Regions from separate parts of the Homo sapiens genome. Here regions 1 and 3 are each linked to region 2. Evidence: fine-mapped expression QTL. A gene starts in region 2. Each other region holds a variant in brackets. All regions are shown on one strand. Distances are between the middles of the regions.

Region 1 (8,154 bases), 22 kb after region 2:
GAAACCAAGTTCACATAATTAAGATTAATCTTTGGCAAACTAGACTAGTTTAATAATTTTGATTCAGGCTGTGTGGGGGCTAACGCCTGTAATCCCAGCACTTTGGGAGGCCAAGGCGGGTGGATCATCTGAGGTCAGGAGTTGGAGACCAGCCTGGCCAACATGGTGAAACCCTGTATCTATTACAAATACAAAAATTAGCCAGGCGTGGTGGTGCGCACCTGTAATCCCAGTTACTCGGGAGGCTGAGGCAGGAGAATCACTTGAACCCAGGAGGCGGAGGTTGCAGTGAGCTGAGGTCGTGCCACTGCACTCCAGCCTGTGTAACAGAGCAAGACTCTGTCTCAAAATATTATTAATAATAATTTTGATTAAAAAATTGCCACGTTACTTCTCCTATTTATCGATGTATATAACACAAGCATGCATTTTATTTGGTTTGTCTTTCCTAAACTCGTACAAGCTTACTCATCAAATAAGCGATTACTTAATGTTACATAATGTTGAGGATCATTAAACCAGGAAATTTGTGCTCAACTAAATTCATTCGTTATGGTGACAAACTTTTTCTTTCAACAGCAATTATATTTTGTAGCTGGAAGATACTTTTCTAGGTGTTTAGATGACTTAGAATTTGGGGCTGATATTAAGTTGAGTTAATGGATAATCACTGTATAGTTAGATGACCTCTAAATACTATCAAATGACAAAACATTGATTATGCAACATAATTTTAGGTTTATATGCAATTGCTTTTTATTTGTTGTGCTTTAGAGAGGCTGTATCTTGGGATCAGATGCATGACTGCTCATTTTTGAACTTTCAGAAGGCGTAAAAGGAATGTGTGTGGCTATAGAAGGTTGGTTATGAACTTTGCTATTCTGCTGAAATCTTTGTCTAAGATAAACAGTTCTCACTTCTCTACCCACCATTTTTCTCTGTGAAGTAGAAGACATTTTGGCTAGTAATGAAAATTAATATGGTTAAGATAAATCTGTATGAGTTAAAAAAATTAATATGGTAGTTGGAGCTATGCAAGGAGCAATAGTGAGAGAGAAACCCAACTGTGCCTGAGCTTTTGTTTTTCAAGGAAAAAGCATTTCTTTTGCTAAAGCAGTAATTATCAAACGTTTTGGGAGAGGCTTCCGTTCACAAAGGAGGAGCTCCCCATGTTTCTCATGGGAACTTGTCCAAGCGTATCTCTTACATAGCAAATCCCATCTTGCCACCCCTGCTCAGAGGCCCCAGATCCACATGCACCTTTCTTCCCAAGAAAGAAGACCTGTTGTCATTGTTTGCACACCTGCCGCCCATTGGACTGGATGCTCTCCTGATAGCCCTGTTTGCTCACCTCCATTCAAAACACATTTTCATTACTGAACCAGATGCCAGGAAAACAAGCATTTCATCTTCTATGAAAATTGTGTAGGGTCGTATTGGTTTTAGAGGATTGTTGTGAGACAGAAATGAAACAGTGCCAGTGAAACAGAGCAGATGTACATCAGTGTGGGTCCATTTGAAGTCTGGATGGACGGAGTGGCACCCCAGCCTCCTCAAGGAAGCCAGGACCCAAGAGTTGCCTTTCACTTTTGCCTCTCAAGGAACCTGATATAACCAACATGAAAAAAACACACTCAGAGCTCAAGAGGGCTGGCCCTTCCCAGGACAGATGCTGCAGAGACTGGATGCATTTTTTCCTGCCCAACCAACCTTGGCGACAGGTTGCTGGGCTCTCATTCATGAAGCTACCTGCCTGGGGAAATGAGTCAATCCAGTTATTAGCTCACCAAGGGCTTTTATTCTTGACAAGGTACTGATACCCTATCTACCTCCACTGCTTGGGAATAGCTGACTTGGACTTAAGTCTGTGGGAATCAAGATATCAGAATACCTAGAGAAGCTGGAGAAATGCACTCCCAACAAATGCCACCTCAGTGTCTGTCACAGCAGCCGTCTTTGAAAGTTGTCCGGCATCCTGACGGCCATGCACAGATTCCATCATGGTGCTTTAAAATTATTTACTAAAACCCACAGAGAAAAGAGGTAAGAAGATACTTCCATGTTATTCCCAAAGCTTCTTGTGAATAATCTTACTGAACCCCCACCGTGATCTTCCCCAGCTGGGTGATCAAGCCAGGACCACCTGAAAATGCTCTCCTAATGCCTGAGTCTATTGTTCAGGGACGTGGTGTCCTTTCTTCATTCCCTGGGCACTCTTAGAGAGATCATGCACCCTGCCTTTCTCTCCTCCTCAGTGTCGAACCTCAGGTAACATTTCTCCCAATTCCCACTCCTCTTCCTCCAGGGAATCAAAGGCCTTTTGCCAACTTTTAAAATCCAAACGCCCAACTGCACACTAGATGTTACATTTTTTTTTTTTTAGAGGAGAGGGTGCTGTCTTTTCATCAGATTCTCAAAGGGTCCCCTTCCACCCCAAAGGATAAAGAACCACGATGCTAAAGGATGTCCACCTAAAGGGCGACAGCTCTAGTGTGAGGGTACAAGCTTGCCATCTCACTCCCACCACCTGCCCAGGGCAGCAGGCCTGAGAGCAGGGCAGTCTTTGACAAGCCAGCAGTGCTCGTGCCAGAGGAAAACAGGGTGGGTCGTGCACCTGTGCTGGAGCAGTTACAGGCCCCACTTAGCTTATCGGCCGGCCGCTCTGCTCGGGTCTTGAGGCTCAGACCTTGTGAGCTGATAGCATCCTCCCTCTTTCCAGAGTCAACACAGCCATGGGCCCGGGAAGCTGGCAGCCATTCTCAGGAAGGGGGTCGAATGCCATGTTATCACCGGGCTGGCAGTTGTGTAGCCTTCGCCGGGACGGGCCCCTTTGGCTTGTTCTCCTTATCTTCTCTCCTCTCAAGGCCCTGCAGTGGTTATTGAGGGCAGCGGATCCAAGGGCATAATCTCCCTCCTGCCTCAGGCTCCCTGAGATCTGTAGCGAACATCCACCGTTCCTCAATGTTCCTCACCCTTCTTCAGTCTGATGTCTTAGTCCCCCAGACATTTCTTATTCATCACTGGTAGGGAGCGTTGCAGGGCCCCTGTGCCTCTAGAACCATAGGCATGGGCGAGAATGCAGACTCAGCACCTGCGGAGGGGGCTTTGGACCTGTGTCTGGCAAACATCCTTGGATTGTGACAGGGTGGGCTGAACTGCTGGGTAAGAGATGGAGACCAGCTGAGCATCGCAGGTTCGGGTATTCTATGTGGTGCCAACACCACGGAGGTCTTCAGTCCTGTGTGAGCAGAGCTTAAAGGGAAATGTCACGTTAGGGAGAGCTGCAAGGTTTCCTGCCACACACTACCAGGAGAAAGAAGCCACTTGTGTATGTGGGTACGACTAGAAAGGTGAGCCGCAGGACTAGAAGTGGTGGAATGCATTCTGGAAGGCCCATCAGGCCAGATGGGCAAGTTATCCTGGAAGTGATTGACAGCAAAATCACACCCAGGAAACTCAGAGACCTAAAGACGGCCCCGCTTCTCATTCTATGTAAAACCCGTTTCAGAAGAGAGAGAGGGAGGCCACGCTGATTATTCTTGGAAAAGGTCAGCTTGGGTGGCACCTGTTCAGACTGGATGAGGGCAGGTGCGATGGATGTGACTCAGCTCCCGACCGGCAGTATCCCAGGGAGCAGGGACAAGCAGGTCCTCAGCTCTGGTCAGAAAGCAGAGGACCCTGGACCCCAAGTGGTCTGCTGCTTTGCCTGACAACCCTGCCCATAAACTGCTTGTGAGCAGAACAAGCGAGCAAGTGTTCACCCCCTGGCATTCACAG[G/A]CACTGGTTCAAGTGGGGCAGATTTTGAAGTACGGGCTGCCAGGGCCTCAGAGGCAGGAACTTCTGCCCATTGCTGTGCTGCTGCAGCTCACAGCAGGCTGTACCCACACAGAGAACATACTCCTGGGGCTCAGGTGGGGGAACAAGGGAGGGGTCAATGTGATGAACAATTCTGGCTGAGAGAGAAGCAGGGATGGGTGGGAGGAGGATGGAGAGAGAGAGAGATGAAGGTAGGGCACCCTCTCGGAGACACAGGGCGGGCTTGTGCTCCGAGGACTCAGCTCAGAATTCAGCCCCATCTCCAGGTCACCTCAAAGCCCTAATGTTGCTGGGCTCCCCTCAGTGACACTTGCCTTCTCAGTCTCACCAGGCTATTCTGATGGCTTCTACTAATGCCCTCTGTCCTTCTGGCAGAATGTGTGGCCAGTGAGTGTCCTGGAGGGGAGGGTGAGAGTCTCCATCCAGAACTTCTCGACTGCAGAGCTGTGAACACGGAATGAGTGTGTGAGGTACGGAGGTCCTCGGCCCCAGGGGACCCCAGGTGCGCTCACAGCCTCAGGGGCGGCGGCCTTCTGCATCGCGGCATGTGGCACGCAGAGTGTCATGTGCTGTGTGTGCCACACGGTGAAACAGGTGGAGACACTGACAACAGGCTTAACTGGGAAGCTGTGCCCCAAAAGGAGCTTCAAAGAAGAGCCCCCTCCACATCCTCAGGAGAAGGACTCTTGGTTGGAAAAGGCCTGGAAGTGACCAGTATCTATGGTGCTTCGTCTCTTTCTCAGGCCCATAAGGACAGAATTTACATTTGAAAAGAAGAACAACACAGAAACTTTTGCAAAGGGCTGCCAATACTTTTTCTCTGAGGAACGTGCAATGTGATGAACAAAATTTTTTCCCAGAAAGCCAGAGGCTGGGCAAAGGCAGAGGGGCCTGGAGGCTGCTCCCAGGTAGGGAAACTTCTGGAGCAGGGACTTGACTCCACCTCCCAGGGGGACCGCATGTCCAGAGTGTGCACTTCTGGGAAGGCTGCAGAGCTGAGAGAAGCTGGTCAGATGCCCGATGCCCTAACCCTGAGATGGAGCTGCTCCCTGCCATCTCCTCCCACCTTTAGTGATGTTTTCAGAGCCTTAAGCTCTTGTGCAGTCTGGGCAGAAGCTGAGCCTTGTGTCTGATCTATACTGGCAGGAAGGAGGCAGCCCCTCCGGGTGAGGGGCCTCCAGGCTGCGGCTGGCTCTGGCGAGGATGGTGGTGAGAGGCCCATCTATTTCCTCAACCTTAGCTGACCTACCGTAAAGCAGGGAAAGCCTGGTGATGGGGTGGGTCACATTTATTCCAATTCTGTCTCCCCTCTTGCATCAGCTTACCCAGGAGCTTGTTAGAAAAGCAGCCTCCCAGACCCCACCCAGACCTGCTGGGTCAGAAAGAATGAGAACCCCCGGGCAATGCATGTGTGCAGACAAGTTTGAGAAACGCTGCTGCTCTAGATACTAGGTTAGCAAAGCACGGCCAAAGTGTGGGCAGGGGAGCCGCACAGTCCTGGTTTCAAATTCTGACCCACCACTCCCACCCACAGGACCCACTCCATGTTTCTCAGCTTCTCTGAGCCTCAGTTTCCTCCTTTGCAAAATGAGGACAATTATAGCACCCACTCTTTAGAACTGGGGAAGGACTAAAGTGTCCAAAGCATGGGCAGTGCCTGGCCCATGGGAGGCGCTGGGGGTGACCGTCCTCCTTCTGGAACTCCTTCCTGACAAGTCGTCTGGAGTGAGGCTGAGGAATGGGTGTTTTCAGAAACTTCAGCTACCTCTGATGCAAGTCCAGGTGATACTATCCCCTGTCATTTACAGTACCTGACCCTGGAATTGTACCCAGGGCACCCTCGTGCACTGGGATACGACTGATGCAGGTTGGAAGGCAGAGCTCCCTGCAGTGGGAGAAGGATGGCAGGGAGCAATGGTCCGGGTCTCAGAAGCGTAAGGGAGATGGGTTTGCTGCTGGAAGCCATTGGTGCATTCTCAGCTGCGGCACAGCCTGACAGCCACAGCTCACAGAAGGGAAAGGGGAGTGAAAGGGGAGGTGGCGGTTTTAGAATAGCCATCTTAGGAGCTTGGCTGGGAAAGGACAGTTATTTGAAATAACAGAGAATCAGGGAGATTCTTCAGAAAGGAGAGAACTGAGATGGTGTTAAAGTAGGGAACGCTATCCTTATCAGGGGAAGAATAATTTCCCCTGAATAACTAAATGTGGGTTTTTGTTGTTGTTGTTTGTTTGTTTGAGATGGAGTTTCAATCTGTTGCCCAGGCTGGAGTGCAGTGGTGCAATCTTGTCTCACTGCAACCTCCACCTCCCGGATTCAAGCGATTCTCCTACCTCAGCCTCCCAAGTAGCTGGGATTATAGGCATGTGCCACCGCACCTGGCTAATTTTTGTATTTTTAGTAGAGAGGCGGTTTCACCATGTTGGCCAGGCTGGTCTCGAACTCCTGACCTCAGGTGATCCACCTGCATTGGCCTCTTAGAGTACTGGGATTACAGGCATGAGCCACCGTCCCCAGCCTGAATAACTAAATGTTTTTCAGCATCTAACATTTTCTTCTACAGGTTTGCTTTAAAAAAAAAATAAGAAAGAAAGAAACACTTCATGAATTTACATGTCATCCTTGTGCAGGTGCCATGCTAATCTTCTCTGTATCGTGCCAATTTTAGTATATGTGCTGCCAAAGCGAGCACCAGATTTGCTTTTTTATAAGTGTTTTTTAAAGAAATGGTATAATGAAACATACATATAGAAAGTGCATAAAACAAAAATGGACAGTTTCACAAATAGTTGTAAGGCAAAGTCCTGTGTAGCCCCTAACTAGCTTAAGAAGCAGAACCTTGCCAGCACGCAGAAGCATCTACAAATCTTGCAGGAGGCAGCACAGGCGCACCATTGACTTTAAGCTTTGCACCTGTCCTGTGAGGTGGGCATGCTTTTTCCTATTTTATATATGAGGACACCAGGATGCAGGTGGGCCACATGGCTCCCCCAGGGCCACACAGCTAGTGGGCAGTAGAGCGAGAATGAAACCCAGGCGTGTTGGAGCCTGACAGCACTAGCGCTGTTTCTGCAGGTGCTAAGGGGGAGGCTTGGCCACAGGGGTGGGCGGCAGGGCTGGAGGGCCAGCCTGGACGGTGGACAGGGAGAGAATGGACTCGGGGATTGAGGTCACCCTGCTGGGCAGGGAACGTGGGAGGAGAGACACAGAGCAGGTACTCTGAGGTGAAGAGGAAGCCTGCTCTGCTCCCCAAGAGTCCCTCCTCACCATGCCTTCCCCTCACTTCTCCCTGACAGTGTCAGGAGAGTCCGTCGTTCAGCTAAAGCTTGGGAGAGGGCGCCCTTGATTCCTCCGATTAGACAAAGAGGACCTTGGCAGGCAGGTCTGGGGACTTGCTAGTGCTGGGTCACTGAGGAGTGTCCTTTAAGGCGATGGGAGCCGAGGGGAAGACGGAATTACTCCCAGAGAGAAGGCTCCCAGCTACGCTAGCTCACAGCCCTCAAGTCCACTGCTATACTGGGTGGCCTGAGGACTTGTGCCAAGTTCCAAGTGAGATAAGACAGAAAACAAGTCACTGGTCAAGGACAGGTCAAGGTAAAGCCAGCCAGAAGAGTTATCATTCCAAGAAGTTCACAAGGCCATTATACAGCCTTTGGAACGAGACATTTCTGCTTTTCCATAAGCAGCTGGGAATTTCTGAGACCTGTTTACAGAGAATTAGAACTTCTAATAAAGGATATGTGACCAATATCACTTTCACCCTTGGCCTCCATCTGCCCTGTTCCCACACCTCCCTAGGTAAACTTTATTCTAGTTTCTCATGCATCTTTTCAGAGCTTTAAAAGTGCATATCTGAGCAAATCAAACACTAGATTTGTATTTCCGCTCCATGACAAGTTTAACAATCTAGAAGTTGGGTCGGTGGATTGTCTCCTACACCACCGAACCTGTCTCTGAGTCCCAAGCATCAGTCAGTCTAGCTAAACTGTCAACAGTTGCATCTTATTTCGGGCAGCAGTGTTACAGGTGGGCTGCCACCAAAGTTAGACATCCATATGGCGCGAGTATTTCACGAGAGGCATTTCTATGAGAACAAAAGAAAAACCAATGTTAGTAATTAGAATAAACTAGAAACTCGGTTTTTAAGCTCAGAAAGCAGCCAGGTGAGAAGATTTCTGGGTTTTGGCTGAAAGCATCTTCAGCTGGGGTGGGAGCAGGCCGTGGCAGTTTGACAGGTTTCCCCACTTTACAGTTTGCATCAGGTGTTCCAGGGGCGTTTCTGAGTAGTCCATATAGCAGCAGGCGTGAGGACCACGCATACATAAGTTGCTGTGCTTTCT
Region 2 (8,181 bases):
ATACAGAAGCAGATGGGGGCTCCAGCGGACCCCTATCAAGCCAGACCCTAAAGAGATTTTTAGAATGTACAGCAGACCATCCTTCTCAGTAAATTTTGTTTGTTTAGAAAATATACCCTTTTTCCTATAAAATGTTATACATATTAATATGTGATAGGCTTATTGTCGTTTAAAAAGGTAATATTCTAAACAATTCTCAGTTAACTCTGTTTCAGTAAATATTGATATAACCCACATTAGTCAGATCTCTTTGGGAGTTCTCAATTCTTTTTTTTGAGATGGAGTCTTGCTCTGTCACCCAGGCTGGAGTGCGGTGGCGTGATCTCAGCTCACTGCAGTCTCCATCTCTCCTGGGTTTGAGCGATTCTCATGCTTCAGCCTCCCAAGTAGCTGGGATTACAGATGTGTGCCATCACGCCTGGCTAATTTTTGTATTTTTAGTAGAGCTGGGGTTTCACTGTGTTGGACAGGCTGGTCTTGAACTCCTGATCTCAGGTGATCTGCCTGCCTCGGCCTCCCAAAGTGCTAGGACTACAGGCCTGAGTTACTGAGCTTGACTGGACTTCTTAATTTTTAAGAATCTGTTATAAAAAGACTCTGAGACTAGAACATTTGAGAACTGCTGCCTTGATCCAAGAGGCTCATTCATTGTTTTGTTATAACCTACATACGGGATTCCCTTTCAGACTATGCAGTCCAGATTTTCCATGATGCCACAAAGCATGGCAAATTCGAGTGCAACCTGGAAGCCTGCACGAGACTGCCCATGATGTACATTGACGACTGCCTCAGAGCCACCCTGGAGGTCATGGAGGCCCCAGCTGAGTCCCTTTCCATGAGGACCTACAATGTCAGCGCCATGAGCTTCACACCCGAGGAGCTGGCCCAGGAGGTCCTCAAGCACGTGCCGGAATTCCAGATCACATACAACGTGGATGCCGTTCGCCAGGCCATAGGTTCGTACCCGGTGGCAAAGGCCTTTACTGTGAGTCCCTGGAGAATGTAAACCTTGGAAGGTTGAAGAGAGCATAGATCCTTCCCAAGGGTCCAGACACCTTTTGGAGAAGGAGCCTAGCCCAAGAAATTGTTGAGCCCAAGCTAGCAGATGCTTTGATTTTGGGGAATGATATCTAAAGTGGGTGAAATCATTCCATTCCAAATAAACAGCTTGTTAGCCTTTCATCATTTTTACAGTTTAAACATAAAGCAAGGAAAAATAGAAGCAACAGAGGTAGTATGAAAACAGCCCCAGGTTTTCAAATACTGTAACTTTGCCAATTTGTGGATGGAAGCACCTCTTTGAGTATAAAACTTCTTATGAAGTTGTGTGAGATTTTGATAATGTGTGAAAATTCACAGTGCCTGACGAAAGATGGGTTAATAGTCTTCGGCCCTAGGAGGGTGACTGTGCATAATGGCGGTTCTGCTTTACTCGAAGGAATTTCCTGTTTTGTACCTTGTACGGTAGACCTTTATATACAATGGTCAAGACCTTTTTGCAAATCCACAACCTGAATAACTTAAGCTAGTCTTGCGTATCTTTTCCTAGCGGATGGTTGGCCGATGAACTTTGATGACAGCAATGCTCGGAAGGACTGGGGGTGGAAACACGACTTTGATCTTCCAGAGTTGGTGACTGCCATGTTGAACTTCCATGGTTCTGAAAGCAGAGTTGCCCAAGCCAACTGAAAGAATCTGGAAGAGGAGCTCCTGTGTCCTGGTCCACTGTCAAGGGAGAACTGTCACAACTCCAAGGTTATAGACTCCAAGGAGCCTACATTATTTGGAACTGACTCATTGGACTAAATTTTGGCAGCTCATATTGAACTGCTAGACAAAGAATGGAGTTAACATTTAAGCATTTTCAGAATGTTGTAGGTATGGTGGTGGGACTTTTCAGTTTTTGCTGTTTGCCTGAACTTGTCTAAACACATTCCACAGAATAAGGCTTAAGTCATCATTAGTTTCCATTTCCTTAATTAGGATGAAGTGACTATTTCTGGGAAGCTGGGAGTATGTGACATTTGTGTTTAATTAAATTCAATTTAAATATTCCTCTTAAGACTCGATTATTCTCTTGACTAAAGACCAAAGATTACATTTTAAGGACTTTCAAAGAGGTACTCCTCATTTATAAGTATTCTTTACTATCCCAGCGAAAGTAAAACATGTTTGGTGTATTCATCCCATGTCTATCACATTCAAGATATTTTGACACTGCTTCAAAAATTATAATTTCTGGTTTTTCTGTAAGATGCTAGATCTGTGGGAAATTAAGAATTCAAAGATGATGTAACCAGCGAAGGGTAGCCCTGCTCTTATTTTGATTGCCCTCCTATTAGTGAGCTAAATGTAATTCCCAGGAACATAATTCCCTGACCTGGCAACATCAGCATCTAGGGAGATTGTCTAATACACAGGTTTCTGGGCTACATCCCTTTAGATTCACTCATTAAGTGCCAGGTGCCACTGGTTATTTGAATCCAGCTGAGGCCCACTAGTCAGACCAGTTTAGACCAATGCAGTTTTCTAAAGAGCACTTTCTTGTTGCATCTTTTTTTTTTAAGATATTCCTGGGTTGAGCTTTCAGAAGGGCTACTCTAAACCCTCTGATGCAATTACCGTATAGATACATACAGGTTAACTTTTTAAGTTGAAGTTAGGCCAAATCAATTTCTGATTGTATTTTATGGTAAGGGAATGAGTGTGTTCAGAAAATGCTTTCAATCCGGTCATTTAAAAAAATATTTCTGGTGCAATACTGTATAGACACGTACAGGTTAACTTTTTTCCAGCGACCTCGGAATGTACTGCATGTAAAATCACTAGGAAGTGAAACTTCCAGTTCCACAGATTAATCATGGATATATTTGATAACAGCTATCAAGGATTAAAAGGCGTTTATTTATGTTGCATGCTTAATAACAAAATGTTATGCATTTGGAGTTTTGAACTGTTAGGTCAAAGCGTGGATTTTTTTGAAGGCATAACTGGATTTAAAATCTATTTGACTATTAACTGGAGAACTTTTAGGTAATTGAATTGTTTAACAGTTACATTACTGTAGCTTTTTCCTCCACTTAATAAGGTTTATGTTTGTAGATTTTATTTTTTTGTTATTTTTCTTTTGGGCTGCTCTTGAGAGGCAGGAAGATTTTATTTTTTAAAATCAGAAAGTTAGTAATGAATTCTTTTTTTGAAAGTTTGAGATATAGTTTACATACCATAAAATTCACTCATTTATAGTTCTGTGGTTTTCAATGTATTAAAAAGTTTTGCAACCATCACTATAATCTAATTTTAGGCCATTTCATCACCCCACAAAGAAATCATATTATATAAGCCCTTCCCACCCTCGGCAACCACTAATGTACTTCTTCTGTCCCTGGGTTTGTCTGTTCTGAGCATTTTATGTAAGTGGAATGTGGTTGTCTTTTAGTGGCTTCTTTAATTAAGCAGTCCATTTTCAAGGTTCATCCATGTTTTAGCATGTATCACTACTTCATTTTTTATTGCTAAGTAATATTCCATTGTATGAGTAATCCTCTTATTTTCTCTATCCATTCATCCATTGAGGGACATTTAGGTTTTTTGCACTTTTTAAGCTATTATGAATAATGCTGCTGTGAACATTTGGGTAGATAATTGAGTTTTAAAATGATTGCTTACTGTTTATAGTTTAAAAAACAGTTCTTAAGTTTGATTAATTTATTCTCAGTTATCTTAAAGGAACAAGCAATTCTTCCCTTTCATAAGATAAGAAGCAGCAACTCGAGTGACCTTTGTCTCCTAGACCCTAACCTTCCAGCATTTCTACCAGGCTCCTAGAATGACCTTTAATTCGGATCATTTGGAGGGGTTTGTTCCAAACAGGTTCCTTGAATCTTTCCCAATCTGTAAACACACCTCCAGGAGATCTCAAATAAGAGTGAAAAAATAATGAATGCTTCAGCTTCTTTGGATGATTCTTATTCACTGACATCTTTGTACTCCAAGACTAGAATTAGAGTTGTCCCTTCTGTCTGAACACTCAGTATCTGGTGCACATCTTGGGATCCCGGAGCCCATCAATGTTTTCCTGTAAAATGCTTTCCGTTCTGTTGGGAGAAAGGGTTTTTTATGATTAATTTGGAAATAACCCAAAAAGCTATTTGAAGGAAAAGTGGGTTTAACCACAAAAATAGTTTATTTATAAATAAAAAAGAAAGAATACAAAGATTGGCTTTGTTCTGATGTTTTACACAGGCTACCGGTGGTTATTAGTTTTCTGCTCACATGTTTGTGTGTGGCGTTGCTGGGATGTGCCTTGTGTTGCTACACAAACAGCGATCCCGAAGTCTGCCAGCAAGATAGATGGCCTGGAGTCCAGAACAGACTGGATTAGTGAAAGCTACTGCAGTGCTTTGGACACTTACTATGGTAGGTGGGAGATATTTAGTATTTTTTAATTCACATAGGCCAAATCACCAATTTGTGATTGTATTTTATGGTAAGGGTGTTCAGAAAATGCTTTAAATTCTGTCATTTTAAAAAAATGTTTATTAAGAGTTCAGACAATTTAAAAGATATATAATAAAGTTGTCTTCCCCTCCAAACCCAATCAATAACATGTTAGCAGTGTAGTGTGGGACCCAGTGCAGTGGCTCACACCTGTAATCAGTACTTTAGGAGGCTGAGGCAGGAGGATTGCTTAAAGCCAGGAGTTCAAGACCAGCCTGGACAACATAGCAAGACTCTCATCTCTACAAAAATAATTTAAGCCAGATGTGGTGATGCACACCTGTAGCTGCTACTCACGTGGCTGAAGCTGAGGGATCACTTGTAGCCAGGAGTTTGAGGCTGCAATGAGCTATGCTTGCGCCACCATACTCCAGCCTGAGCCACAGAGCGAGACCATCTCAAACAACAACACACAAAAAAACTAGTGTATACCTTTTATTTTCTCCTGTGCTTATACAATCTAGGAGTGGAAGGTGAAACCTTTTTCTTTTCTTTTACTATAAAAGTAGTGCTAAGACAATATTGTCAAAAGTTTTGGAAAAGACTCACTTTCAATTTTTGCCATGTCACATGGTAGCTGTTTTAAAATATTCTCCAGTCCTCTATGCGTTACAAAGAACTTACATGTAGTTTTAACATTTGCCATTTAAAGATAGCTGCATAACTCGTTGAATGGAGTATCATAATGATGTCATTCTATTTAATTGCTGAAACCTAGAAGTACAATTACTGGGTCACAGGGCGTAAACACCTACTTGCCTCTTCATTTTATGTGGTCAAATTTATCTTCGGAACGAGTTGGATTAATTTGTGATGAAATTCTCGACCATCAACACCTTCCTCTTGGCACATATTCATGGACCTCAGTATGGTTTACATTTGTTGAAAAGTTTTATTTTTGTGGCTGGGTGCAATGACTCATACTTGTAATCCCAGCACTTTTGGGAGGCTGAGGCAACAGGATCAGTTGAAAGTTTTATTTTTCTAAAAGGTTTGAAGAATATAAACTTCATTTTTTGCTGGAGAATCTTAACATTCTAATACAAGAGCCGTGAGTGAATAAATCCTAGATCTCACATAACCGGATGATAACTGCCTCTAAATCAGTGAATTGCTTCCAAAAATCACCGGTGAGAAAGGAATCTTGTTTTTTAATGATTTTTTTTTAGGGTAGTCACTTTAAAAAAAATTATTTCATGGCACTGTTTTTATAGCTTTAGTATGTTTGTCTATAAGGTAGCTAAACAGGCCACCCCTTACCTTCCAATGTGAAGATCCCAGAAAACTTTTTTTTAGCCAACTTACATATATAAAGTTTAGGATTGTAGATGAGAGGATAAAATAGACACCTGTACTATTAGTTGCAGGTGTTTCAGATTTGTTAATCTATTAACCAGCATGTGGGCTTTCCCTCTTCACATTCGCATTTCAGGCATGTCACTCCGACTTCGTATTTGATCTTGGTGCCCCCTTTGGCATCCCCTAATAGGTTAAGAGCAGATGATCTTTTTTCTTTCTAAGTTGTTTGGGATGCAGCAGTTTCGGGGTCTATGTATGATGCTGTTGGTGGACATTTATCCCAAGCCACAAGTATGCCTGTGTGTAGGTAGCACTAGGGCAGCTGCTTTTCAGAATCCACAGAGCATTGCTTTCGATTTTTAACAGGCTTCTTTCCAGTGACACCAAATACTTGTAACTGTAGCTTTATAATCCTAGAGACCGTGACTGTTAATGTGCCTCCTTTACAACTTATCCTACCAGCCACAATATTAGCATTGCTTAAGGTTGTTTGAGGCTAATAATGTTTCCACAGAACAATAACTTGTATTCTTTTCAGGTTACCGACAGCATTTAGTATATCCTGAAAGAGTGTAATGTTTCAAATATAAGGTGAGCATCCCTAAGGGGATAGTTTCGGGAGATAACTCTGCCTTATTTTGGGAGTATATGTGATACCTTGTCTGTTGATCCATTTGTCTGAAGTCCTTAAGAAAAGCTTTTCTCTTTTGTTAAAAGGTCAAAAATTTAAAAATTATTTTGCCCAGTTCTTTCTTTACGCTGTAAGTACAATTCTTCTGTACCTACATTGCTGTAAGAAGTTTAAATATAATTTGTAATTTAAGTTGTAGTATGAAAGAATGAACCAGAACAAGTAGCTGCCTCCAAGGTTGTACTTTCCCAATTTTTTAATATTCAAGGCACCTAGAAAATGTATCATTAAAAATATGTTATTAAAATATGCTGTTATTTGTAATACACACTATTATTTTTATGTTCTAAGAAAGGAAGAAAACTTGCATTTAAATAGACACAATGGCCAAGTGCAGTGGCTGATGCCTGTAATCCCAGCACTTTGAGAGGCTGAGGGAGGAGGATCGCTTGAGTCCAGGAGTTCAAGACCAGCCTGGGCAACACAGGGAGACCCTGTCTCTACAAAAATTGGCTGGGTGTCATGGTGTGAGCCTGTAGTCCCAGCTAGTTGGGAGGCTGAGGTGGGAGGATAACTTCAGCCCAGGAGGCAGAGGCTGAAGTGACTATGATCAGAGCATTGCACTCCACCCTGGGCAACAGAGCCAGACCCTATCTCTGAAAAAAACAAAAGAAAAAAGAAACAGAACGCTTTCTTGTTGTTTGGACTTTTTACTTTGTATCCCATTGAGGAGCTCTTTGAGACTTTGCTAGATGCAGATGTTATCACTTGCGCATCTGTAGAAACGGATCTAGAAATGTATGTTTGTTTGTTTTCCTGAAACTTCGGGTTTTGCTTTTCTGAATCACTTTTTGACTCAGTGGTTGGTGTCTCTGGTTTTTCCACCCAGTGTTGTTCTCTGTGCCAGTATGAGTTTTATGTCAGAGCACTCCTTAAAAGAATTCATAAAACCTAAAAGTCACTGGCACTGTAAACCAGCTTTATAGTTACGCCAATCTCGCCTACTTTTGACACCTGCTTTAGGAATGTGCTAACTCTATTTGGTTTGCCCAAAACCTTAAACTCTTTGGTTCCTAGGAGTTACAATGATGGCTGAATGTTTCTCCTGGCCTCTGACACCCACTGCGCAGGGTTCAGTGCTGTGTTTGGAAGGTGCCTATGTCACCAATAGGCAATGCTAGCACTATTACAATCACAACCTGTACAAAAGAAGTTGTAGGATAATCCTGATTTCAAATACGTAAAAATCTGGAAGAAAATGTGAGTCTTAGCAGAGGGTGAGATGTGGTTGCATTTGCAACCACTAGTGTGCCAGGGCAGTCCCCGCCCTGCTCAGACTGCTACCTCGAGGGCTGAAACGATCCCAGGAAAGCTCAGCAGTAGATGGTCACTGCAGGGCTCACACCTTCCTTTCGCATGGCTGGGGAGGGGGGCGTTAGCAGATGTGGTGGGCACTAAAGGAGTTGCTAAGGTTGGCAGCAAAGTGCCAGGCCTCATGGGAGAAAAGAGGAGATGGGATATGAGCTGCCAGGAGACAACGGTTGGGAAGAGCAGATTGTCCCATGGGGGGTTAGGTCCTGTGTGGTTCCTAGGATGCGATCCATCCTTTTTGTTCCATAAAATGTTAGGCGATGCTTTCGTGTCCCATTAGTGGAGCTGCAGCACCGGAGGCTGCTGCAGAGGGCTGGAAGGGACCGTGAGTAGGTAGGCGGGGCAGGGCTCCCCACTCTCTTGATCACACCACCGTCTTC
Region 3 (8,154 bases), 67 kb after region 2:
GACACTAAAGGCCAAATACCGTAGGATTCCACTTAGAAGAGGTTCCTAGCGTAGTCCAATTCATAGTGATGGAAAGCAGGACAGTGGTGCCAAGGGCTGGGGAGAGGGGATGGGGAGTTAGCGTTTAGTGAGCACAGAGTTTCCATTTGGGAGGATGAAGTTCTCGAGATGGATGGTGGTGACGGCTGCACAGCAATGTGAATATATTTAGTGAACTGTACATATAAAATGGTACATTTTATATTATACATATTTTACTGACATTTAAACAACAACAGCAGAGTCTGCAAATTTAGAGCAATCAGTTCAATCCAGTTTGCCCAGGACCTACCTGGTTCTAGCACTGAGAATACTGCATCCAGGGGACCTCCTTAGTCCTGGGCAAATAGAGATGGCCGGTCAGCCTGCCTGCAGCAAGCGTGGCCGCAGGTGCTGGGGAATGGGGGCCCAGCCTGGACAGTTGGAGGGTGGTCTCAGTGATGTTGTCTCTAGCCTGAGTGACACTGGAAGCTGATGAGACCCTGAAGAGTAGTCTGGGAGGTAGAAGGGCCTCTCTGGGGGGTTACTGGAGATGGGGGCCACAGAAGGAGGGTACTGGACCAATTGGCAAAAAAAAAAAAAAAAAAAAAAAAAAGGATTTTGTTCTTTGCCAAAGGCCCGAGAGGCTGGCCGGGGTGACTCAACTCTCAGTGTGGGTTTCATGCTGTCCCTGGCAAAGGCTAGTCTAACATAGGATGTGCATTTGGGAAAGGCAGCATTTTTGTGGAATTTGCATCCTTACTCAACATCCCCTGGCTGATCTGTGTTCACTTGCTTGGTCTAAAACACTGAGTGATTTCTTCACATTCAAGGGAAGCAAATACTCTTAGTTGCCAATGAGATCTGCTCCAATACTTTCTCTGATCCCACGGACTGATGTCTATGGGTCTAAAACGGCCCAAAGATTTTAGGAATTAAAAATTTAAAAAAGGACATGTACTATCATCAGAGTGAACAGGCAACCTACAGAATGGGAGAAAATTTTTGCAATCTATCCATCTGACAAAGGGCTAATATCCAGAATCTACAAAGAACTTAAACAAATTTACAAGAAAAGAACAACCCCATCAAGAAATGGGCAAAGGATATGAACAGACACTTCTCAAAAGAAGACATTTATGTAGCCAACAGACAAATAAAAAACACTCATCATCACTGGTCATTAGAGAAATGCAAATCAAAATCACAAGGAGATACCATCTCACACCAGTTAGGATGGTGATCATTAAAAAGTCAGGAAATAACATGCTGGAGAGGATGTGCAGAAATAGGAATGCTTTTACACTGTTGGGAGTGAAAATTAGTTCAACCATTGTGGAAGACAGTATGGCGATTCCTCAAGGATGTAGAACAGGAAATACCATTTGACCCAGCAATCCCATTACTGGGCATATACTGAAAGGATTATAAATCATTCTATGATAAAGACACATGCACACGTATGTTCATTGTGGCACTATTCACAATAGCAAAGACTTAGAACCAACCCAAATGTCAATCAATGATAGACTGGATTAAGAAAATGTGGCACAGATACACCATGGAATACTATGCAGCCATAAAAAAGGATGAGTTCATGTCCTTTGCAGGGACATGGATGGAAGCTGGAAACCATCATTCTCAGCAAACCAACACAGAAACAGAAAACCAAACACGGCATGTTCTTACTCATAAGTAGGAGTTGAACAATGATAACACGTGGACACAGGGAGGGGAACATCACATACCCGGGCCTGTTGGGGGGTAGGGAGGGATAACATTAGGAGAAATACCTAATGTAGGTGACGGGTTGTTGGGTGCAGCAAACCACCATGGCATGTGTATACCTATGTAACAAATCTGCACATTCTGCACATGTAATCCAGAACTTAAAGTATGATAAAAAAAAATAAAAAATAAAAAAGAACATGTAATTGTCCGACCATTGGAAGCACAAGGAGCAACTCTATGAAGGTGTTACCTTTAACCTACCATGGTTTCTGCTTCCTAAAATAAAGGCAATGCACGGACCACCAGACAAATCCTCCCCTTTCCAACAAAAGTCTTACCCGAAACCCTATTAATAGTTTGTCTTTTTTCTATCGTCTAATGCTTCCATTCCTGAAGAATGTGGCTGTGTGCACTTTGGCTTACGAAACCCTCTGTTCTTTTAGTTTGGTGAAATAAGGGCTGTGATGGCAGCAAATCTGAAAACATGTTTGGGGCAGAGATTTCTGGATGCATCTTTAAAGCTGGCTTGAGAGAAATCCCAGTGCACAGGGGCCAACCAGAGGCGAAAGAGTGCGTGTCCTGGAGAGCGTGGTAATCAGCTCAGAACTGGGCAGGCAGACAGAATGCCAAGGTGGTGAAGGGCATTTTGTCTGGTCCCTTAAAGTCAGGCTCTTATCTCTCCTATCCCAGCCTAATAGCTACAATTAGTCTCTGATGCATGCTGAAAAGAGGGTGCGTGTAAAATCCAGGCTGTTTTGCCAGCTGTGTGTGCAGGCCCAGAACATGTTCCACTGTCCGACGATTTGGGAATGAGACTCACAGTTCTTGAACCCAGGAAACAATTTGTGTAATCTCTTTCCTTATCTTATTTAACTTCACCTGCAGGTCTGCCTTATTATTTTCGTCAGTGTTGTGCAGGAGAATCCACTTAGAAGCCTGGGTAAAATTGTATTACATGATCTTGGGTTTGGTCCCTGAGAAAGAGCCAGATTAACGCTGGCAGGAAAGAAAGCAGGAGTGCCCTTCAAACACGCTGCTGAAGGGCAACTGGAGGTTCCGGGGAAATGTGAAGAAAGAAACGCAAACACCCCTAGGAACCAGGTTGGTCTTGTGAATTGATTTCCAGAGGAAGGCTGGAGTTTCTTTCCCAGAGGTCTCTATTCGGGGAGGCTGCAGCCCAGCGGGAGGGAGCTGAAGCTGACTCTCCTGGCGAGCCGAGGCCGCACTCACGCTCTGCAGCCCAGAGACTGCAGGGCGGGGACTCTGAGCCTGGCTGGTCCTGGGTTCTCTTTCAGGCCCCTGGCCTGGGACTGTGGATGGGAGGGGGGCAGGTGCAATGGCTCCTGTCACTGGGCTGACTTGCATGCAGGAAGGAGACAGCAAGATGAGTCCATCTGAGCCAGGCCTCCAGGGATCCTCCCTGCCAGGGGCTCCTGTGCCCCCTGGGGAATGGTGAGTTTGCTGGGAGGGAGAGACGACAGCCCCAGAGCCAGGCATAGAGCAGGAGGCTCTTCGGGCCCTGCCGAGGACTCCACAGGAAGAGTTAAGCTCTACCCCTGTGATCAGGCCTTTAATTTTTCAAACTTGGAAGGTGTGGGCCAAACTACACACCTTCAGGGGTGAGGCTGGCCTTTGGGAAGGACAGAGTGATGCATTCCGAAGAGCCCCTAGATCTGCCACTAGGGGCTCTGGGTTCCAGTCCTAGTGCAGCCTCTGATGACATGATGACTCTGGACAGGTGGCATGTGCCCTACACAGAGAGAGGATGCTGATCACCTTCCTCCCCTCCCATCAGATTGCATCTTGGAACTGAGGAGGTTCTGGAAGCTGTACACCCAAGGAAGACATTCTGTGCCGGAGAGAGAGTGGGAGAGATGTGACTGCTGCTGGCTGGGTGAGGACAGGCCCAGAGGACAGCATCACTGGCACCCACCCCTGCATTTGGGTCCTCTGCACCTCAGCTCCCAGCATCTGGGCCTCCTCCCTGCCTGCCTCCCC[C/T]CCTCACTCAATCTGTCTCCACTCAAGAGGCTGATGGGCAGGTCTCCCTGCTTCTTCAAATCTTTCAAAGGTATCACGGGACCCTCCTGTTCCCTTGACCTCTCCAGCCTCCTCTCCCACTCTGATGCCCTTGCCCCCACAGGGCAGCCACACTGAGGTTCTGTCCCCTCCCCTGTGGTCCCTTCTCCACCTGTCACCCTTCAGGACCAGCTCAGCCTTTGTCCCTCTCCCTGCAGAGGGGATGACAGCCCCATGGGCGCCTGCTACCACTGCCCCTCCATGCGGCCTCCACCATGGCACCCACGTGTTGGGCATTGGTTTCATTTTTTATCATGTGTCTAGATGACAAAACACCAGAGGAGAGACAGAGACTGGGGCCACCACAGTGCCTAGGGCATGCTCTGGTGCTCAAAAGCCATTTGTTAGATGAATGAATCAATGAATCAATCCGTTAGTTAAATTTCCCCAGAGCCAAGTCTTGATTTTCCACACTACATTACCCAGTACCTGTCTCCACGGCTGGGACAGTCCTGGAGACCTCACTCCTCCCTCTGCTACCCGGGCTGACCGCCACCCTCTGGGATCTCCCACTGCCCCCAGGCCTGTGGAGAGGCAGCCAGTAGAAAGGACAGAGGAGCAGCCCCTGGTTCAAAGTCCTTCTCTTCAACTTGCTGGTGACGCCACCCTGGGCAAGTCACCCCACACCTAAGCTTCAATTTCCTCATCTGCTACATGAGCATAATAGTACCCACTTACTGATAATAATTGACCGTAATTAAATGGGCACACACTACTGATCATTTATGAGAATTAAATAAGCCCATATCCACACACTTTGTACAGGACATCGAGTTCCGGAATTACTAGTTCCACCATATCCCGTCTTCATACACAGAACCACAGAGCAAACCATTCAGTTACGTTTTTACTTCCCATGTGGCGCTTGCCCCAGCTCCTGGGTGCCGGGTCCCTGCCAGAGCCTTTTTTGCTCCTCACAGCCTGGCTCAGGGCGGGTCCCCAGCCCAAGCTTCACCCACCTTTACTGAGCGCTCCCTTATCGCTGACAACTGTACTGCCTGTCACACGTCACCAAGCATGGTCCGGGGTTGGGTAGGGCTGTGTTATTGTCTCTATCACCAAGTGTTGCCAACGTCAAAGGGCTGGTAATGCCAATACACTTCAGACTGGAGATGCGGTGGGGACCCTCCCACTCAGGGGTGTCCTTAGCTTGCACATGAGGAGGGCCAGGCCCGCCACTAGGGGCCAAGGCCTTCCTCAACTTCCCTGCCACTCCCCTGGAGAGCAAGTGGGGGCCCTCGTGAGGCCAAGCAGCCAGTCCCAGGACTGCTGCCCCTGCCAGGCTGCGAGCATGGCCCAGGTACGGCTGTTCTTGCTGGGCCCCCGGCAAGACCTGCAGGAAGGGCTGGCTCCCTCACCTCTGTGAGCTCGGCCATGCTGCTGGGGGTCTCTGGGCCAGTCGGCGGAGGGAGAGAAGACACCCCCTAGCAGGGGCTGTCTCCCTGCTCCGACAGGAGCTCCCCTGCACGGCCTTCTCAATTCCACCTGCAGGAAGGCCTCCCCCATCTGCAGGCAGGAATTGGGGCTTGCATTACATGAAACTGGAAGCTTTAGCCAAGGTGATAACTGTCCTATGGAAATGGAGTGCCGAAGTGCCCTGGGGTCACCTGAGAGCCCTCAGAAGACCCCTGGGGCACAACTGTTGGGATTTCTGGGCTTTTCTTGGGTTCTCTATCCCCTGCTTTGGAAACAGATGTAGCGGGAGCTTCACATCTGATGCTGAGCGAGAACCAGCTAGGAAGGTGTCAGTAGGCTGCTAACCTCAAGGGAGGGAGAGCTGAGGACAGGACATGAGCTGCTGGAGTGGGGACCTGTGGGATTAAATAGGGCTCCCAGGCACCTGCAGTTGCTATAGATTCCTGCCTGCGCCTCCAAAGGGAAGTGAGGCAAATCTATTTTCTGCCCCAGCCTCCAGGCAAGTTTGAGGCTGTTTTGTTCTCCAAAGTCACTTCATACTCCATTACTCGGGTACCTGTCTTCTTGGGAAGAACATGCTTTGGGCTTCAGCTGCCAGGGGCCTCACAGTTTCCTATAGCATGGTGGGTGAATCCAGACCCACTGCAGGGCTTTGAGGTCGGGCAGATCTGAGTTCAAATTCCTGCTCTGCTGATTGATCTTGGGCAAGTTTTTTAACCTCAGTTTTCTCATCTGTGAAATGGGGATAGTAATCGTGCCTACCCGGAAAGATTGCTGTGGCTACTGAATGATGTGAGGCGTGTGTATAAACATGCGTAATACAGTACCCAACCATCCCAGGGGCCCAGCAACTGTTCAGTGTCCTAATGCCACTCATTCCCCTCCTCCCTGCTCAACGCGCTGCCAAGTAGGGATTTATCATTTTACAATCACAAAACCAAGAAGTCTTGGTTAATTGGTTTACCTAAAGGCACACAACTAGGATATGGTAGAATCTGACTTGAAGTTGAATCTAATTACACATATTATGCTTTTTCCAGTGCACTCTTGACCAGTTAATGAGCCAGTTGTATTAGAATCACTTGCAGATACCTGTTAAAACCCCAACACCTCCCCAGGTTTATGGAATCTGAATTTCCATGGAGGGCTGGGAGGGATCTGCATTTTTAGCAAACGCTCTAGGTGCCTCACCCAGTAGTCACTACCCCATACCGTCGTGTGCTGTTATAATGGGGAGGGTGCCCATCAGAGGAATTGAGTTTATTATTATAGAAGAAACGTGAATGGGAAATAAGGAGAAACTTAATGCAATTACGTGGACAGGCATGGATCTGGCTGCCAAGGAAGTGAGGAATTTGCGTATTTCCCTTTGGTTAATTTCATCATCCACCATCATCCACTCAGCACGGCCCTCAGCTCACCAGATCATCTCAGAACTCAACTTACTGCATCTCTATTATAACTTTTGTCACACCATGCCACTGTGTTTATGTGCCTGTCTTCTCCTTCGAAGGGAAACTTCACAAAGACAGGAGCCCTGACCCATCCACCTTGGCCTCACCCCACCCCAGCACGGAAGCCAGGCGGCCAGTGGAGGCCGGTAGTGCTGAATGGACATGGGGCTGGATGAAAAGACTTCCGCCTGCCTCTCTCAGCCCCGGAATCGCCATGAGCTGCTATTCCGGTGAGGTGCTGCTGTGGGGATCCTCCAACTCCCTTCTCCTTGACCCTGCAAGACAGCCAGGAAAGGGAGAGCAGGCAGGACCTCCCGGTTGGGGTCAGCTGCAGCTCCCTGGCCAGCAGCCCCAACTCATCAGCTCTCACATCAAACAGGAATGTTGGGAGATTGAAGGCCTTACTTTTATTTGAATGTTGGGAGATTGAAGGCCTTACTTTTATTTTATTCTAGGAGATTCTATGCTACAGAAGTACAAGGTGAAGAATGCATACCGATTACATTGGCAAGGGAGAGAAGAGCCTGGTGCTAGCACTTTTGCTTCTTTGGTCTTTCAATAATGTCTTTCCCCTTGATTATACATGATATATTCCTATTTTGGAAACTTCGAAAACTATAAAAAAGTCAAAAGAATAATATTACCACTCAGAAATAAAGATCATCAAGTTTTGGTGTATTTCCTTTCCTGGTTCTTTTGTTTATACATTCTTTGGTAACCCCCACGAGGCCGTATCTGCCCAGATGAATAGAACAGGAATCTTCCTCCTGCAGGGCTGGTGCCAGACAGGCTGAAAGCACCGGGCTATGCAGAGAAGACTTAGCCTTGGGAGAACAGAGGCTGGGACGAGGAATTCTCTTGTGAACCAAATCCCCGCTCAGCCAGTGCCTCGCTGATGGCTCCGAGCAACTTGCTACCTTCATCCTGAAACAGTACAGCTGCCCTGTCCCTGGAAATGGTTGTTATGAGGCAGTGCTAGCAACCTCCTGTGTGACCTTTTACAAGTACCCTGTTCTGAAGGGTTTAAGCACGGGCTTTCTGGCAGCTCAGGGCCCCTTGACTTGGACATCTGATGTGCCCAGAACAAAGAGATCTGGATCCAGAACCAAGTGATGTGTGTCTGTGTCGTGGCTTAGCCACATCCTTGCATATGACCTTGGCCAAGTCGCTTTAAACTTTCTGTCCCTCAGTTCTACAACCTTTCTGAGCCTCAGTCTTCTCCTCTGTAAGATGGGAATAGCAAATACTTCCAAGCCTTCTTGCAGGATAGTGTATATGGAAGGTTCCCTAGATGGGGGGTATCAACCTGGCTGTATCGCCCACTTCCCGTCGGAAGACACTGGTGAGTATGACCTGCCATTTGGCCACACTGCTTAGCACACATGGATGACACCTGCCTCAGAGGGCTGTCCCCTGACATACCAGAGTCTTGTGCATACCAAGCAGGCAGCACAGGCAA

Alleles and levels. Positions count from the first base shown, and alleles are read on the strand shown. Sizes are in standard deviations (SD) of each study's normalised expression.
For the expression in pancreas of the gene that starts at base 4,369 in region 2, allele G in region 1 goes with a lower level than allele A (large effect, 0.82 SD a copy in GTEx).
With allele T in place of C in region 3, the expression in anterior cingulate cortex of the gene that starts at base 4,369 in region 2 is higher (small effect, 0.35 SD a copy in GTEx).

What was found.
Region 1: its variant is fine-mapped to the expression of FAM167A-AS1 in pancreas (GTEx, PIP above 0.99).
Region 3: its variant is fine-mapped to the expression of FAM167A-AS1 in anterior cingulate cortex (GTEx, PIP above 0.99). The same link has a PIP of 0.9 or more in lung.

Annotation. Positions count from the first base shown.
Region 1 is chr8:11,386,012-11,394,165 of GRCh38, forward strand. All of the region lies in intron 2 of FAM167A-AS1 (FAM167A antisense RNA 1), which reads left to right. It also overlaps the pseudogene RNU6-1084P. Among named protein-coding and RNA genes, the nearest start is that of FAM167A-AS1, 22 kb to the left of the region's middle. The variant G/A (reference allele first, on the strand shown) is at 3,778.
Region 2 is chr8:11,364,034-11,372,214 of GRCh38, forward strand. It overlaps FAM167A-AS1 (FAM167A antisense RNA 1), which reads left to right and starts at 4,369. Exons shown (of 7, transcript NR_026814.1): 1 at 4,369-4,419. It also overlaps the pseudogene TDH.
Region 3 is chr8:11,431,286-11,439,439 of GRCh38, forward strand. All of the region lies in intron 2 of FAM167A (family with sequence similarity 167 member A), which reads right to left. It overlaps FAM167A-AS1 (FAM167A antisense RNA 1), which reads left to right. Exons shown (of 7, transcript NR_026814.1): 4 at 2,635-2,850; 5 at 3,545-3,817; 6 at 6,755-6,925; 7 at 7,151-7,372. Among named protein-coding and RNA genes, the nearest start is that of FAM167A, 31 kb to the right of the region's middle. RefSeq lists enhancers at 4,617-5,136, 5,137-5,656 and a silencer at 6,932-7,135. The variant C/T (reference allele first, on the strand shown) is at 3,748.